Linked DNA regions of Homo sapiens. The protein of the gene in region 1 interacts with the protein of each later gene in a pairwise test. Each region holds a gene or a part of one and is shown in the gene's direction. Other genes may lie near its edges.

What was found.
Region 2: the proteins of KIF13A (region 1) and DNAAF6 interact in binary tests that used the Homo sapiens proteins (3 or more experiments, as listed by UniProt).

Annotation. Positions count from the first base shown.
Region 1 is NC_000006.12:17,984,613-17,992,514, reverse strand, and holds the start of KIF13A (kinesin-like protein KIF13A), read left to right. Parts: upstream 1-4,879; 5' UTR 4,880-5,051; coding exon 5,052-5,106; intron 5,107-5,370; coding exon 5,371-5,461; intron 5,462-7,902. UniProt on the Homo sapiens protein: Plus end-directed microtubule-dependent motor protein involved in intracellular transport and regulating various processes such as mannose-6-phosphate receptor (M6PR) transport to the plasma membrane, endosomal sorting during melanosome biogenesis and cytokinesis.
Region 2 is NC_000023.11:107,237,591-107,244,616, forward strand, and holds the end of DNAAF6 (dynein axonemal assembly factor 6), read left to right. Parts: intron 1-1,331; coding exon 1,332-1,417; intron 1,418-5,578; coding exon 5,579-5,708; 3' UTR 5,709-6,657; downstream 6,658-7,026. UniProt on the Homo sapiens protein: Plays a role in cytoplasmic pre-assembly of axonemal dynein.

The DNA of each region.
Region 1 (7,902 bases):
CTCCAGCCTGGGTGATACAGCCAAGACCCCATCTCAAAAAAAAAAAAAAAAAAAAAAAAAAAGGGAGTTAGATTTGGCATGGGAAGCAGGAGAAGGCAGCACTTCTGTCACTAGGTGGAATGCCCAGGGATGCAAATCTGATTCTTCATGGAGGCCTTTCCTAGGCGAAGAACTTGAGGAGTCCCCTGACTGAGTTCAGCTTCTCTTCCAATTTGAGAACTCTGTCAGCGGAATCCAAGCACGGAATGGGTGGCCGTTTTGGGGGCTGTTGTAAAAAGGTCCACAGGACTCCCAAAGGCCCTTCAAACGCTAAAAAGACATAATTCCTAATGATGTAAGGCTAAACTGTTTTGAAAAAGAAATGTTTAGTAAACTTTTATTTATTTATTTATTTATTTATTTTTGAGACAGAGTCTTACTCTGTCACCCAGGCTGGAGTACAGTGGCATGATCTTGACTCACTGCAACCTCTTTTCTCCCCGGTTCAAACAATTCTTATGCCTCAGCTTCCCAAGTAGCTGGGATTACAGGCATGTGCCACCATGCCCAGATAATTTTTTTGTATTTTTAGTAGAGACAGAGATTCACTGGGTTGGCCAGGCTGGTCTTGAACTCCTGGACTCAAGTGATCCGCCCACCTCAGTCTCCCAAAATGCTGGGATTATAGGTATGAGCCACCATGCCCAGACTAGTAAACTCTTCATAGAAGAGGTGAGGACTAATCTGGTCTTTAAAGTTGGAAAGGGTCAGGAAAGCAGAAAGAAGAGTCACTCTGCAAAGAACCAATGGGAACTGTTTTTCTAACCTGTAACACCAAATGAATCATGCCCCTCTCACCTTAAGACCTATTCTTCTTCTCAACTATTCGTGGTGTTATGGGCCATCATCCTCCCAATCCCTTTCTCAGTCACTTGCAATCCTTTGCCTCCCTCAATCTTCACATCCCATTGGTTGCTAAATTGTTCCACTTTTCTCGCAGTAAGTTCTGCGTCTGTTCCTTCTGCTCCATTTGTGCTATCATTGGCTTTGTTCATGCTATCATCACCTCTGGATGATGATATCATCACCTCATCTGGATGACTACAATAGTCCTCTGGATGGATACAGTGTTGCCAAATTAATTACCCTGAATCAATGCTCTGAATATGTCAATCCCTGGCTCCAAATCCAAATGCTTCATTCAGTTCCTATTGCCTTTACAATAAACATGAAATTTCTTAGGCACTCAAGGCTTTCATGATCTGGCAGAGAATGAGGGAGAAGGAGAAAATGAGACAGAGAAGGGATTGATTAAATTTTGTATATCCTCCCTTCCTTTCTTCCTTCCTTCCTTTTCTTTCATCCTTCCTCTCTTTCTTTATTTTTTTGAGACTGAGTCTCACCCTGTTGCCCAGGCTGGAGTGCAGTGGTACAATCATGGCTCACTGCAGCCTTGACCTAGGCTTTCTAGCAATCCCCCCTGCTTCAGCCTCCCAAGTAGCTGGGATCACAGGCACACGCCATCACGCCTGGCTAATTTTTTATTTTTTGTAGAGACAGAGTCTCCCTATGTTGCCCAGGCTGGTCTCAAACTCCTGGGCTCAAGTGATCCTCCCACCTTTGCCTCCCAAAGTGCTGAGATTTCAGGCATAAGCCACTGCGCCTGGCCTCTGTATTAGTTTCTTAAGACTACTGTAACAAATGACCATGAAATGGGTGGCATAAGACAACAGAAATTTAGTGTCTCAGAGTTCTGGTGGCTAGAAGTCCCAAATCAAGGTGTCAGCAGAGCCGTGTTTCCTCCGGAGGCTTCCTTTCCTCCTCCTAGCTTCTGGTGGCTCCTGGCAAACCTCGGTGTTCCTTGGCTTGTGGCTGCATCACTCCAATCTCTGCCTCTGTCTTCACATGGTCTTCCTCCCTGTGTATCCAAATCCCCCTCTCCTTTCTCTAATAAAGACACTAGTCAGGCCAGGTGCGGTGGCTCACACCTGTAATCCCAACACTTTGGGAGGCCGAGGTGGGCAGATCACCTGAGGTCAGAAGTTCGAGAGCAGCCTGGGCAACACAGCAAAACCCCATCTCTACTAAAAATACAAACATTAGCTGGGCATGACGGCACATGCCTGTAGTCCCAGCTACTTGGGAGGCTGAGGCAGGAGAATCGCTTGAACCTGGAAGTGGAGGTTGCAGTAAGTTGAGATCGTGCCACTGCACTCCAGCCTGGGCAACAGAGCGAGACTCTGTCTCAAAAAAAAAAAAAAAAAAAAAGACACTAGTCATTAGATTTAGGGACCATCCTAACCCAGTATGGCCTCATCCTAATTTTATTTCTGCCAAGACCCTGTTTCCAAATAAGGTCACATTCACAGGTACTGGAGGTTATGGCTTGTACATACCTTTTTGGGAGTTACAAATTCAACCCTCTACAATTCCCACTGATAGAAACTACCAGAGCAATGGCTTAGCATAGGGATGGTATCTTGCTTGTGAAAAGGTCCTGGATAAAGAATTTCAGGAATGGTGGGAGGTAATATTAAACAGAGAGGTTTTTTGTTTGTTTGCTTGTTTTTGAGGTGGAGTTTGGCTCTTGTTGCCCAGGCTGTAGTGCAACGGTGCGATCTTGGCTCACCGCAACCTCCGCCTCCCAGGTTCAAGCGATTCTCCTGCCTCAGCCTCCCAAGTAGCTGGGATTACAGGCATGTGCCATCACGCCTGGCTAATTTTGTATTTTTAGTGGAGACGGGGTTTCTCCATGTTGGTCAGGCTGGTCTCGGACTCCCGACCTCAGGTGATCTGCCAGCCTCGGCCTCCCAAAGTGCTGGGATTACAGGCGTGAGCCACCGTGCCCAGCCTGAGAGTTTTTTGAACAATAGAATACCATGCACGATTAAAGGATAAAATTTTAATTTTGTGAAAAATCAGTCTGGAAGCTGGATTTAGGAGTGATTAGAGGAGGCAAAGCTAGGAGGGTTAACAGGATGTCTCAGCAGCCCAAAAGTGAAGAGGTAAGCACAGACCTAGATTCTTAGCCTCAGAGGGCTGGAAATTTCACCTCTTTCTGAGCAGCAGCTGAGAGCCTGTAGCCTAAAGCCTACAACAGTGTTTGTAACATAGTAGGGCGCTCAGAACACATTTGTTGAACAAGTGAATGGACAGGTAAAGTGAGATTGCAGCAGCAGGAATGGAGAGGAGGAAAGATGCAACAGGCCCTTCAGAGGTAGACTGAGATAGCTGGCTCTACAATAAGGTGGGGCTGAAGTATTTGTCCTTCAGTGTACACAGGGGACTGGTTCCAGGAACATCCAAAACCATGCATACTCAAGTCCCACAGTCAGCTCTGCAGAACCCACAAATAGGAAAAGTTGGATCTCTCAGTTTTGAACCTGCCAAATACTGTCTTTTCTTTTTTCTCCCTTTTTTTTTTTGAGACAGGGTCTTGCTTTGTTGCCTAGGCTGGAGTGCAGTGGTGCGAACATGGCTCACTGCAGCCTCAACCTTCCAGGCTCAAGTGATCCTCCCACCTCAGCCTCTCCAGTAACTAAGACTACAGGCACCTGCCACCATGCCCGGCTATTTTTTAAATTTTTATGTTTGGCAAGATGGGGTTTCTTTACATTGCCCAGGCTGGTCTCGAACTCCTGGCCTCAAGTGATCCTCCCGCCTCGGCCTCCCAAAGTGTTGGGATTACAGGCGTAAGGCACTGTGCCAGAGCACGAATACTGTATTTTCAATCAGATTTTGGTTGAAAAAAAGCCACGTGTAAGTGGACTCGTGCAGTTCAAACCCGTGTTGTTCGAGGGTCAAGCGTAGCATCACCTCGGTTGGAGGCGGACGGACCCCTCTCCTAGCACCTGCCGTACACTGTCTAGCATAATAAGTCTCCACGCCCTCTCTTCCACCTTAGCGTGTGCCTCTGCATCATGCTATTCATGTTTCTGTGTGTCCTCAACAGCACCCTGCACACAGTAAAACCTCAATGCATCTTCCAATAAGTGGATTTCTAGATTTAAGCAAAATCGAAAGATTCCTGGATCTAAACTCTGGATTTTTGACTTCTGTACGCTTCAAAATGCCTGGCACTCGGTGAGCGCCCCTTAAGCACTTGTTGAACCAAACAGAATAAATCGGATTCGCCCAGTTCCGCCCTGGCAGCGAGGTCTGCATTTGGCAGGATGACAGAATCCATTGCTATTAAATTCTTATGTAAGAGTTAATGGCCCTCCCAGCCCACTTGACATCCCTCCCGAGACAAGAGAGGCCGGGAAAGGAAGGGAGAGCACTATTTACAAACATACACTGTTTCGGTGGTGGATTCACAGATTCATTTCTAGTCTCGGTTCACCACAGAGATCTTAAAATACCGCTGCAGGCTCCGTGTGGGACAGAGGGGGCGGCGTGCCGGGACTCGGAGGGGAAGGCCTGCGCACCCAGCGCGGCGAGCCGTGGTCCTTGCTGCCGTCCCGGGGCTCCGGGTGGCAGCGGCCCCAGAAGGCGGCTCGAGCTCACGGCGGTGTCCGGGGGGGGGCCCCGCGGGCGCCGGTGCAGGCTTGGCCTGGGAGGTCCCCTGGGGAAACAATGCGTCCCGCCCCGGACTCCAGCCTCCCCTAAGCGCCGCGCTGCTCGCCGCTCCTCTCACTGCCGTCCCGCCGCTCCAGGGGGCGCCGCGCGTGGCCGTGTCCGGCCTCTCCCGAGCCCCGGCGGGTGACGGGCGCGGAACATGGCGGCGCGGGGCCCCGGGCAGCCGCGAGGGGCCGCGGCGCTGCGGTCTCGGCTGGGGCGGCGCGGCTAGAGCTGCGCCTGGGCCCGCCGGCGAGGCCTCCTCCCCGCCCGCCGCCGCCGCCGCCGCCGCCGCGCCCCGCCCCGCGCGCCCGCCCCTCCCCGGGCCGCGGCCGTGCCCCGCGTCGCGCTCCCCCGGGATGGCCCGCGCGCCTCGGCGCTGCCTCTCGGAGCTCACGGCGGAGCGGCGGCGGCCGCGCTCGAGGGGCGCGCGGCTGCAGCGGCGGCGGCGCCGCGCGTGAGGGGCCGCCTAAGGCCGAGCGGGCGCGGCGAGCGGCCGGGCGAGCGCAGCCAACATGTCGGATACCAAGGTAAAAGTTGCCGTCCGGGTCCGGCCCATGAACCGACGAGGTGAGGAGCTTTCCGCTCTTTTTTATTTCTGCTCGGGCTGAGGGCGGGGGCAACTTTAGAAACTGCGGGGCCGGGACGGCGAGAGCGCGGCCGGGGCCGGGGGGCCGGGGCGGAGGCGGCGTCCGCGCTGGCCGTGGTGCCCGGGGCGCCGTCTCCAGGCTCGGCCGCCTCCAGGGACGGAGCCCCGCTCGGCGCGGCTGGCGGGCGGGCGGGCTGGAGGCGCGGATGCTGGACTTTGCAACGTCCCTTTCTCTCTGCTTTCAGAACTGGAACTGAACACCAAGTGCGTGGTGGAGATGGAAGGGAATCAAACGGTCCTGCACCCTCCTCCTTCTAACACCAAACAGGGAGAAAGGTAAAGCGGGTTCCGAGAGGGCGGCTGGGAGGATCCAGCCTCGCGGGGTCCCGCAAGTTTGAGCCAGGAAAATGGGAGTGCTCTTTCCTATTGTTAGGAGGACGGCTTCAAGTTTGTCGCCGGCTCCTGTTTGAAGCTGTTGCAAGTCCAAGTTCCTCTCCTCCCTCGCCCCCCTTCTCCTCCATCTAGAGCGGCGGCAGGCAGGGCACCCTGGCCACAGCACCAGTCAGCTGAGCCCGGGCGGGCTGCGAGGCACCCGGGAGGGAGAGGGCCGGATGGGACCCCATAGGTGATTCGTCCAGCGGCCACATTTTACAGACAGGAAAACTGAGGCCCGAGGCGGGCAGGTGACCAGCCCACGACCTTATTGTTCGTGGAACCCAGTGTCCGTGATTCTTTTCATCACTGCAGGGTTTGTTTCCTTTGGCAGAATTGTTTAGGGACAGTGTGTCTAAAATGGGAGGAAAAAATAAAGCAAAAGTCTTGTACGATGTAGACTCAGGCTGGACTAGTTAGTATCTATTTTAGTTGTTGTTGCTGAGTTGAGATAATGCCTCAATGTAATGCGCGAATTTTGATTTTCAAAGAAACAAAAGTAGGGCCCTGAACTGTATAGACACTGAGGGATGTTTAAAAAGGGGCTGTATTTACTAGATGGCAACATATTTGCATTTGAAAAGTGGTAACTGTTGGATCCTTATTAATTCCGTTCTGTTCCATGCAACAGTATGGGTTAACGCCCCAAAATAATTTGAATATTTGGCATTTTTCTAGTAAGCCTCTGAGAAGAAATCGGTTGGAATTCATTCAATATAATAATGCAGTAGCTTGTAAATATATATATGTGAAAAAACGGGAGAGTTTACAATATTAATTTTCATTGGAAATGAATATGAGTTTGTGTTTCCACGAATCACCTGTTGATCGATGGAATACAATTTAGTGAATTTCCTTCTTCAGAGATTTTCACTGAAGAGAGACTCTGAAGCAGGGTTTGTGACATTATTGCTTAGAGAAGCAATGCCTCCATTCTATAATGTGTGGTGTTCAAGCTCAGTTTTGCCAAATTTGGGGAAAGAAATCATGAGGCGATAAGATTGGGGATTCTTTGCTTTTCGTGTTGAGCATAGCAGTTTTTATCCAGTTTGCAAACATTCTGCTACCTTTAGCAGATTCTGGTGGTGATATTAAATAGCTAAGCTATATGTAAAATGTTGTGTTTAACACTGAATGTAGTGTTTATTGTACATTGTACTGAATGTTGTCTAGTAATGGATGTATTTTTAGATGCATTTATAGCAGTGTAGATAGTATAGCATATTTCATGGTGATAGTAAGTAAACTCATTGAGTACATTAAATATTTACAGATTAAATTAGATGCCCATATCACCAACGAATGTCCCCTCCCCCCACCCCCCCGCAAACTGCATATTGTTTCGGGAAAAAATTCTGTTGGGTCAGATTCTTGAAAGCAGTCTGGGGGAACAGGTAGAATACTTTTTAGCTCCTGTTGTGTAGCCGTTACTTGTTTTCCTTGCTGGCTTGGCACCTGCTCCTTGTCACTCTTAACCATAAGCAGTGCGACTGTTAGCTACTGTTTAATGACATGAAGTGTTGTCATTTGTGAAGAGAAACAGATTTGATTTTGTGGGATTTGGTACAATCTATAACTGTGGACAGTTGGTTCCAAATGCTAAGTAATCAGTTGATCATTTTTCGGGCTGAACCACGTTAGTTACTAATCAGGATCTTTTAGGTAAAGATTTGAAGGGTGATTTTGGGATCTATTCATCTGCTTACTTACGATAGTCCCTTATCTGGAGTTATAAAAATAGCATTGAAATATGGGTACTCTCGTGTTTTGTCCTTCTGACGGATCTAATTCTTTGAATAGCAGATGAGCTTTCTGTGGGATTCTGTCTTGAGTACCGGTCATTTCATTTACAGACAAACTGAGTAGTCAACAAAACAGTGCTCCTTGTACATTAGGATTACTGTCTTTGCACAGATGAAGACACCAAATGCATTTTTATTTTCATTATGCAGCTTGGTTTCATATTTCTCCACAGACTTTTCCCTTAAAGTAACAGTGCATTTAAAAATAGAAACAATTCCTCCCTTGGGCTCTGGGTTGATTAATTGCAGCAGTGCTTCATGCTATGTTTGCAATTCATTTCTGTCATTGGTTTTTAGATAGTGCTCAGGGCAGGGCAAAGGTGAAGAGTAGAATACTGAGAATGTTATTATTTTTCATATCTGCAAGTCCAAGGTTTGAAGTGTAAGAGGTCTTTAAATGCATATTGGCAAACCTGTGTCAAATTGAGAATTACTGTTTTTCTGAAAGTTGCAAGAAATTACCAATGAATTAGCCATGGATAGAAATTGAAGGTTAGTGGGTGAAAGTTTTCAGTCTTACCAGTAAAAACAAGTGAGAATGCA
Region 2 (7,026 bases), on another chromosome or scaffold:
CAGTGCTAAAGGAAACACCATACCCATTAAGCAGTTACTTCCCTCTTCTCCATTTCCGCAGCCCCTAGCAACCACCAATCTCTTTTCTGTCTGTATAGATTTGCCTATTGTGGGCCGGGCGCGTGGCTTACCCCTGTAATTCCAGCACGTTGGGAGGCTGAGGCGGGCAGATCACAAGGTCAGGAGATCGATACCATCCTGGCTAACACGGGGAAACCCCGTCTACTAAAAATACAAAAAATTAGCCGGGCGTGGTGGCACGCACCTATAGTCCCAGCTACTCTGGAGGCTGAGGCAGGAGAATTGCTTGAACCTGGGAGGCAGAGGTTGCAGTGAGCCGAGATTGCCCCACTGTACTCCAGCCTGGGCAACAGAGCGGGACTGCGTCTCCCACAAAAAAACAAAACAAAAACAAAAATTTGCCTATTGTGGACATTTCATATAAATAGAATCCTATAATATGTGACATTTTGTCCCTGGTTTCTTTCACTTAGCATAATGTTTTCAGGATTCATCCATATAACAGTACTTTACTCCTTTTTATGGCTGAATAATATTCCATTGTATGGATACAACACATTTTGTTTTTTCCATTCATCAGTTGATGCACATTTGGGTTGCTTACACCTTTTGACTGTTATGAATAGGGCTCCTATAAGCAAAAACATTATGTACATGTTTTTGCTTGAAAACCTGTTTTCAGTGCTCTTGGGTATATACCCAGGAGTGGAATTGCTGGGCCATGTGGTAATTGAGATGAAACATTTAAAGTGAAATCTTACTAAACCAATATGTTGTCCTTTTGGGGAGGTGGGAGTCATATTGTTATTTCTCTTTTGTTTTGATAACATAACACCTGAACTCCCACACCTCCCTAGAAAATGTGGTATGGAAATTTATGCCAGAAGACTATTAGATGGCATCACCAACTCATACCCAACATGAGAACTAAACTTTTTTTATACAAATTGCCAACTGATATAAAGGCAGTTGAAGGTCCCCAACTCTAACAGGTGTACTACTATGTACCTTCAGAAAATGAAGGTTACAGTCAAGTAACCAAAGTGTTTCTGTATAGCTTTGGAGCCAGAAACCTTAGTCAGATTACAGGAGGTTGCCCTTGGGCCACTCACTAAATTTCTCTGTTGTAGTTTCTCCATCTGTAAAATGGGGATAATAATCTCTGCTGCTCAAGATTGACATAAAGATAGGGCATAGCCTGGCACATAGTTGACAATAAATATTAGTCTCTTTTCCCCATATATTCTTATATTCTTCAAATTAATTGCTCTCCAAGATATCACTATTTTTCTTCTCATTTTCTCTTTCAGGCTAAAATTAAATTGCCAAATACAAACCCTTCTGATATTCAAATTGATATCCAGGAAACAATCCTTGACCTTCGTACTCCTCAGAAGTGAGTAAAACTTAGAACTGGAATAGTGTATTATAATATTAAAGAGTCTTCAGTCAATATTATTTTTTAAAATGTACAGTTATTTTGTATCACCCCTAAAGTCTGAAGAAAAGTGGAAAATTTTGTATTCAGATGTTTGATCTACATTAATATAAACATAAATATGTTTGGAAATACTTGGACTTTTTTCTACTTTGCATCCGTGCATTTGGAGTGGGTTAATGCTATTAAAACACAATTCTTGACACCCAGATGCAGTTTATCTATCAGAAAAAATAACTAGAAGTGAAAATGCCATTAAGTTGTAAGTCTTATATGTGGTTTTTGTACATTGATTACATAAGGGAAGCAATATCTTTATACTTTTGTCATTTTGTGGGGCTGTAAGGTTAAATTTGAGTGTTTTCATTTAAATCAACAAAAAGATCTTGCCATCAATTACTATCTAAATACCTCACTGCTTTGTGCACATCTTATCTGGATATAGAGCAGTGAGCACATACTGGTTCACTGCAATGGTCCTAACTCTGTAACTCATGAACATTTCAAACTGGATTTGGGAGGCAGGCAGTTGCTGGCACATTTTCTTCCTTCCATTATCAGTACCTATAATTCTCCTTTGTTGAGCTTAGGACTTCAAGAAAATGACAAGAAGATCCTTCATACAAAAGATTCCTATGTGTAAACAACCCAATATGCATATGTAGCTTAATCTTGGCTTCTATAGTAAATGCATTTAACCCAAAATGGTCTACAGATAAATATATATCAAATGTTTTCTTATTATTTACATCATTTCAAAAATGTATCCTCACAGAACAATCATCTCATGTTATAAAAATTATATTCACTATTTCTGCTGTTTACTTCAAGGAGTATTGTACCCTTTTGTTGCATTTTATACACGAATTTACTCTTCCACATAACCTTTACAAGGAAAATTGGTTAAATGAACAATCTTCCAAGATATTTGCAAGCTTGTTAAAAGCACACACATGTCTACACACCATGGGGTTAATTTCCGTTTCCCTAGCAGTTCTCACTGTCTGTGAGACTTTCATTTAGTGGATTCTGATGGATATCTGTAATGACGGCACAGCCATAGCAGCTACCTAAAGATTGATGGAGACAGCAGAAATACTGAATACAATTTTTATAACATGAGATGTTTGTTCTGTGAGGATACATTTTGGATTAAAAGTACTTTCCCACATAGAACATGGGCTATACACTAGGTCCTTTGGATCATAATGTACTTATATATTAAATGCGCAGTGCAGAGAGGTACCATCTCAAGAAAACCTGCTTAACTAAGATAGAAGACAGAAAATATAATTAAGGATTTTATCATGTTTCCTAAATACTTGAGAATCCTTTAGAGCCATGCTTTTCTCTGAAATTGCATTATCGGGAATGTGTCTTGTTTTCGAGTTTATTGATATTCACACCTACTTTCTTTAGTTTCTAACTTTGACATCATATAACGCTATGTTTATCCAATCTGAGAAAGATTTGAGAGGGCATTCTGTTCTTGTATCTATAAGGCAGAAACAAGCGAATTTATTTTAACTGAATTGACCAGTGGTTTCTGTCAAACAATAGTCAATTTCATTCGAATTACCAATAAAACCCAGGTATTTACCAAAATAAATAAAGCAGTTTACCAAATTCTTCACTTTTTTCAATTGGTTGTTTTGGCATGTAGATACCCAACATGGAGTAAATGGAGAGGAGGAAAGACGGAGAAAATTGGATAATTTACGGGGATCTCTTAAGTCTTCATATGAGATTTCATTATTTTTCTAAGTGAATTCTAAGAATTTCATAAATGAATACCTTGAATGTGATAATAATAACACATTCTAAAGACAAATGTAAGCTAATTTTTGGTTGAGTGCTGCTTTAGATTACTCACACATTTGCTGTGCTCCTTTAGTTTGGATTGGGAATTGACTGATTTTCAAAGACTGATAGCTAAAAAAGAAGTTTTCTAAATGAAATAGTTGAGTTGCAGCTCAGTAGCTATTTCTGCACTTTCTTTGAAAATAGTTATGTCTCCTTCAGTAAACCTTAAAAAGGTTTTTAACCCAGATATGTAAGTCAAATAATTTTGTTAATTATATAAGATAAAAATTTCATTATGCGAATATGCTGGGAACCAGGATGTCCTTTGCTTAAATCTCTTGTGAGCAACATCAACTTAAACTCTCTAATATAAGTATAAGCATGTAAGTCTCTAAACTTGAGTTCACTGTAGAGATTTTTTTTGTATTTACATTCATGTATTATTGTTTGCATTTAATTTCTAATGAAAATTAACACTGGATGAACCTTTGATCACTGCCTAGACTGTAACTTCTGAAAATGCAAATACATTGTCAATGTAAAAGTAGAGGTATTGGGTTTAAATGTTTGTTCATATCTTATAGTACTAATCTATGGTAATTATTCAAATGTTATTTTGTGGTGACCTGAATACTTGCTTCATTTATTTACTCACTCATTCATTTATTTATTCACTCAACATTTATAAAGTCTTCCACTAGACACTAAGGGAGCACCAAGATAAGATACATTAATGTCCTTCCATGAATTGTACATGGATAAGTATTTGGAGAATTTTTATTTTGTTTAAATATAAATCTCAGTACAGATAATAAGACAGTAAAACAGACGACGAAAATATTTCCCTTCTCCTAAGAGCCTAAATCAGTTGTACAGTTCTACTGTTCAACATTTTATTATGTGAAGCCATACTACTTAGAACTACACAGAAATGCAGGCGTAGATGGATCATTCCAATGGCCACTAACTGTCTCTTTTGAATTTATTTCTCTCTGGACAGAGAAGTGCACATTATCATTGGAACTCCTTCTTCAGCTGATTTATAGTTGTCTTTTAGTGCAACGAAGCTACCATACTAAGCTTTGCTTTCTTTTAAAAGTGAATATATTATCATTTATTGAATAAAGTATAAAGGAAATCTAAGTCTAGCACAACCTATATAGTAAACAGATTTAAAGGATGGACTCTACACGGTTTTTGCACTCACTTTTTTTTTCCTGAGATGCCAAATATTACAGTCTACATTAAAATGCATTGCCACTACGTTTGGCAACGTATTCAGGCGAAGTGTTTTTCCTACCCCACATGGAATGGAACAAGAGTCACAGAAAATTTATCCTTCAGGTTCCATAAATGTGTAATAAATACTTTTAATGAACCCAGTCTTCTGAACTCAGGTTTTTGCAAAGGAATAAAGAAGGAATTGATTTTCAAGGGTTTTGTTTTCAAATACATACTAGTTCTCAATTCAAGAACCCAATAAGTGCCCCTAAAAATACCATATTCCTTTACTTATTTGGATATTATACCTTCTAAAAGAGCATCCTGTCCACCTTTTATAGAGATACTCAGACCTTCTCTACTGAAAATGCGAGGTAACAAGTGTTTCATGCATTTAATTTTCTTCCAAAACCAGCATGTGCTGACCCCGTGCATAATTTAGATTCATGCCAATATGGCAGAATTATGGATGTCTCATCCCAGCAATGCATCTAAAGCATAAAACTATCCAGCAACTGAACTATAAACCACAAAATAAACCTAGCAATCTATCACAGGGAATTTTTGTCAATGTGTAAGTAGAAAGAATCAGAAGCAAGGAGAGAGAAGCACTTTCATTGATTTGGTATTGAAATCATTCCCAGCCTCAGTTTCAAAAACTACACCTGTGGTAGAGACTCTGCTTAAATCTATGTTAGCAGAAGTGTCATAGAGCCATTCCAATTTTCAAATTTGTATCCGTCGGCCACATTGCATCTATACATAAGTATGAGTGGCAACAGATCTGTCCAGCAAACTTAAAAGTTGCATAGTTCTATTTCTATGCCTGTAAACATAGCCTGAGACTATGTAAAATGAGGTCAATTCGGAGAAAAATAGGGGCGCCAAAACAACTGCTTGGATTTTTAAGTCCAGAAAAACTGGTATACTGTTTGTGTTATTTAGGCATATTTTTGATCCAATATTTACACTATCTAAATATTGGGGGGGGGTTGTTTTCTAACACTCTAGTGGCATATGTTGTTTGCAATTGTCTTATTGAAAGTGATACATCATTTTAGGAAGCTAAGGTTTTATTTTGTTGTTTTTTTTTAGGAAGCTGTTGATAACTCTTCCTGAGCTGGTGGAATGTACCAGTGCCAAAGCATTCTATATCCCAGAGACTGAAACTCTTGAAATCACTATGACTATGAAAAGAGAGTTAGATATTGCTAATTTCTTCTGAAACTGCATGAAAAAGATAAAAAGTAGTAAAATGGCATTGGTAACAATTAAAAAACTTTGAAAAAAATGATTGTTTTCTATATTCTCTTTATTATTCTGACATATTTTTGAAAGGGACAAAATTCAGTTCTAGTGATATTGTGACCATTTACAGTAATTTCTATTACTCTGTTAGGAAATATGTTTCCTTGGCCAGGTGCAATGGCTCATGCCTGTAATCCCAACACTTTGGGAGGCCGAAGCAGGCGGATCACTTGAGGTCAGGAGTTTGAGACCAGCCTGGTCAACATGGCGAAACCCTGTCTCTACTAAAAATACGAAAATTAGCCTGGCGTGGTGGCAGGTGCCTGTAATCCCAGCTACTCTGTCTCAAAAAACAAACAAAAAAAGGAAATATGTTTTCTTATGTAAATAAACTATTCTATTTTTATAGTGATAGCTGAGTAGAATCTTTACAGGTTAAAAAATTAGAATATTTCATGGTCAATTACATAATTGAAATATGATCATGAAATGGTTGGTCCACTTACTTCAGTAGTCTGAAAAACTTATGCTAATTATTTACATTTACACTGTGATACAATCAGTTGCATAGCAATTGGTCATTATTATTACCAGAGAATTTTATTTGGTTGCTTTTTCATTGATTTGAGCAAATGATTTACAGTGTTCTCTGTTTAGGCTCTCACTGTTGTTCTGGAATATACAGGTAATAAATAGTTTGATGTACCATACTATCAACATATTTACTTGAGTAAGGAACACTTTTGTGCGTACAGTATTATTTGGCTTCTTCAGTTGTGCTTTTAATGCTTGGATATAGTTAGGTTAAAAACATTTTTTATATGCACTAATAATTATTAGCATTGCCTTTTTGGGTACTGTATTTATATGTAGTCAATTGAAATCCTTGACTTTAAAATAAATTTAAAGTGTGGCACATTTACAAATCCTGTTTGCTCTCATTTCCTATCTTTCTTCTTAAATAGACATATCTCTTTTAGGAATTGTCTCAATGTCCCCTCCTTCTTCTATACTGTATTGCATATGTTTATTTTGGAATTATTTATGAATACATTATAAAGCTTGTGTGACTTGGCTTCATACATTATTTTAGAACTGTGGAGTTACCAAGGAGTAAATTTTGAAAAGATGAACAATGAAAAGATGTTCATCACTTCTATATGAACTATTAAGGGAATAAATAGCAGATATTTTCTAGAGTTAATTATATATATACAACTATGAAGCATCTAGTTTGTGACTAGATGAAATGATGAAATAGAATGAAAAGACTGAGATTTTGGAAAAAAAAATGG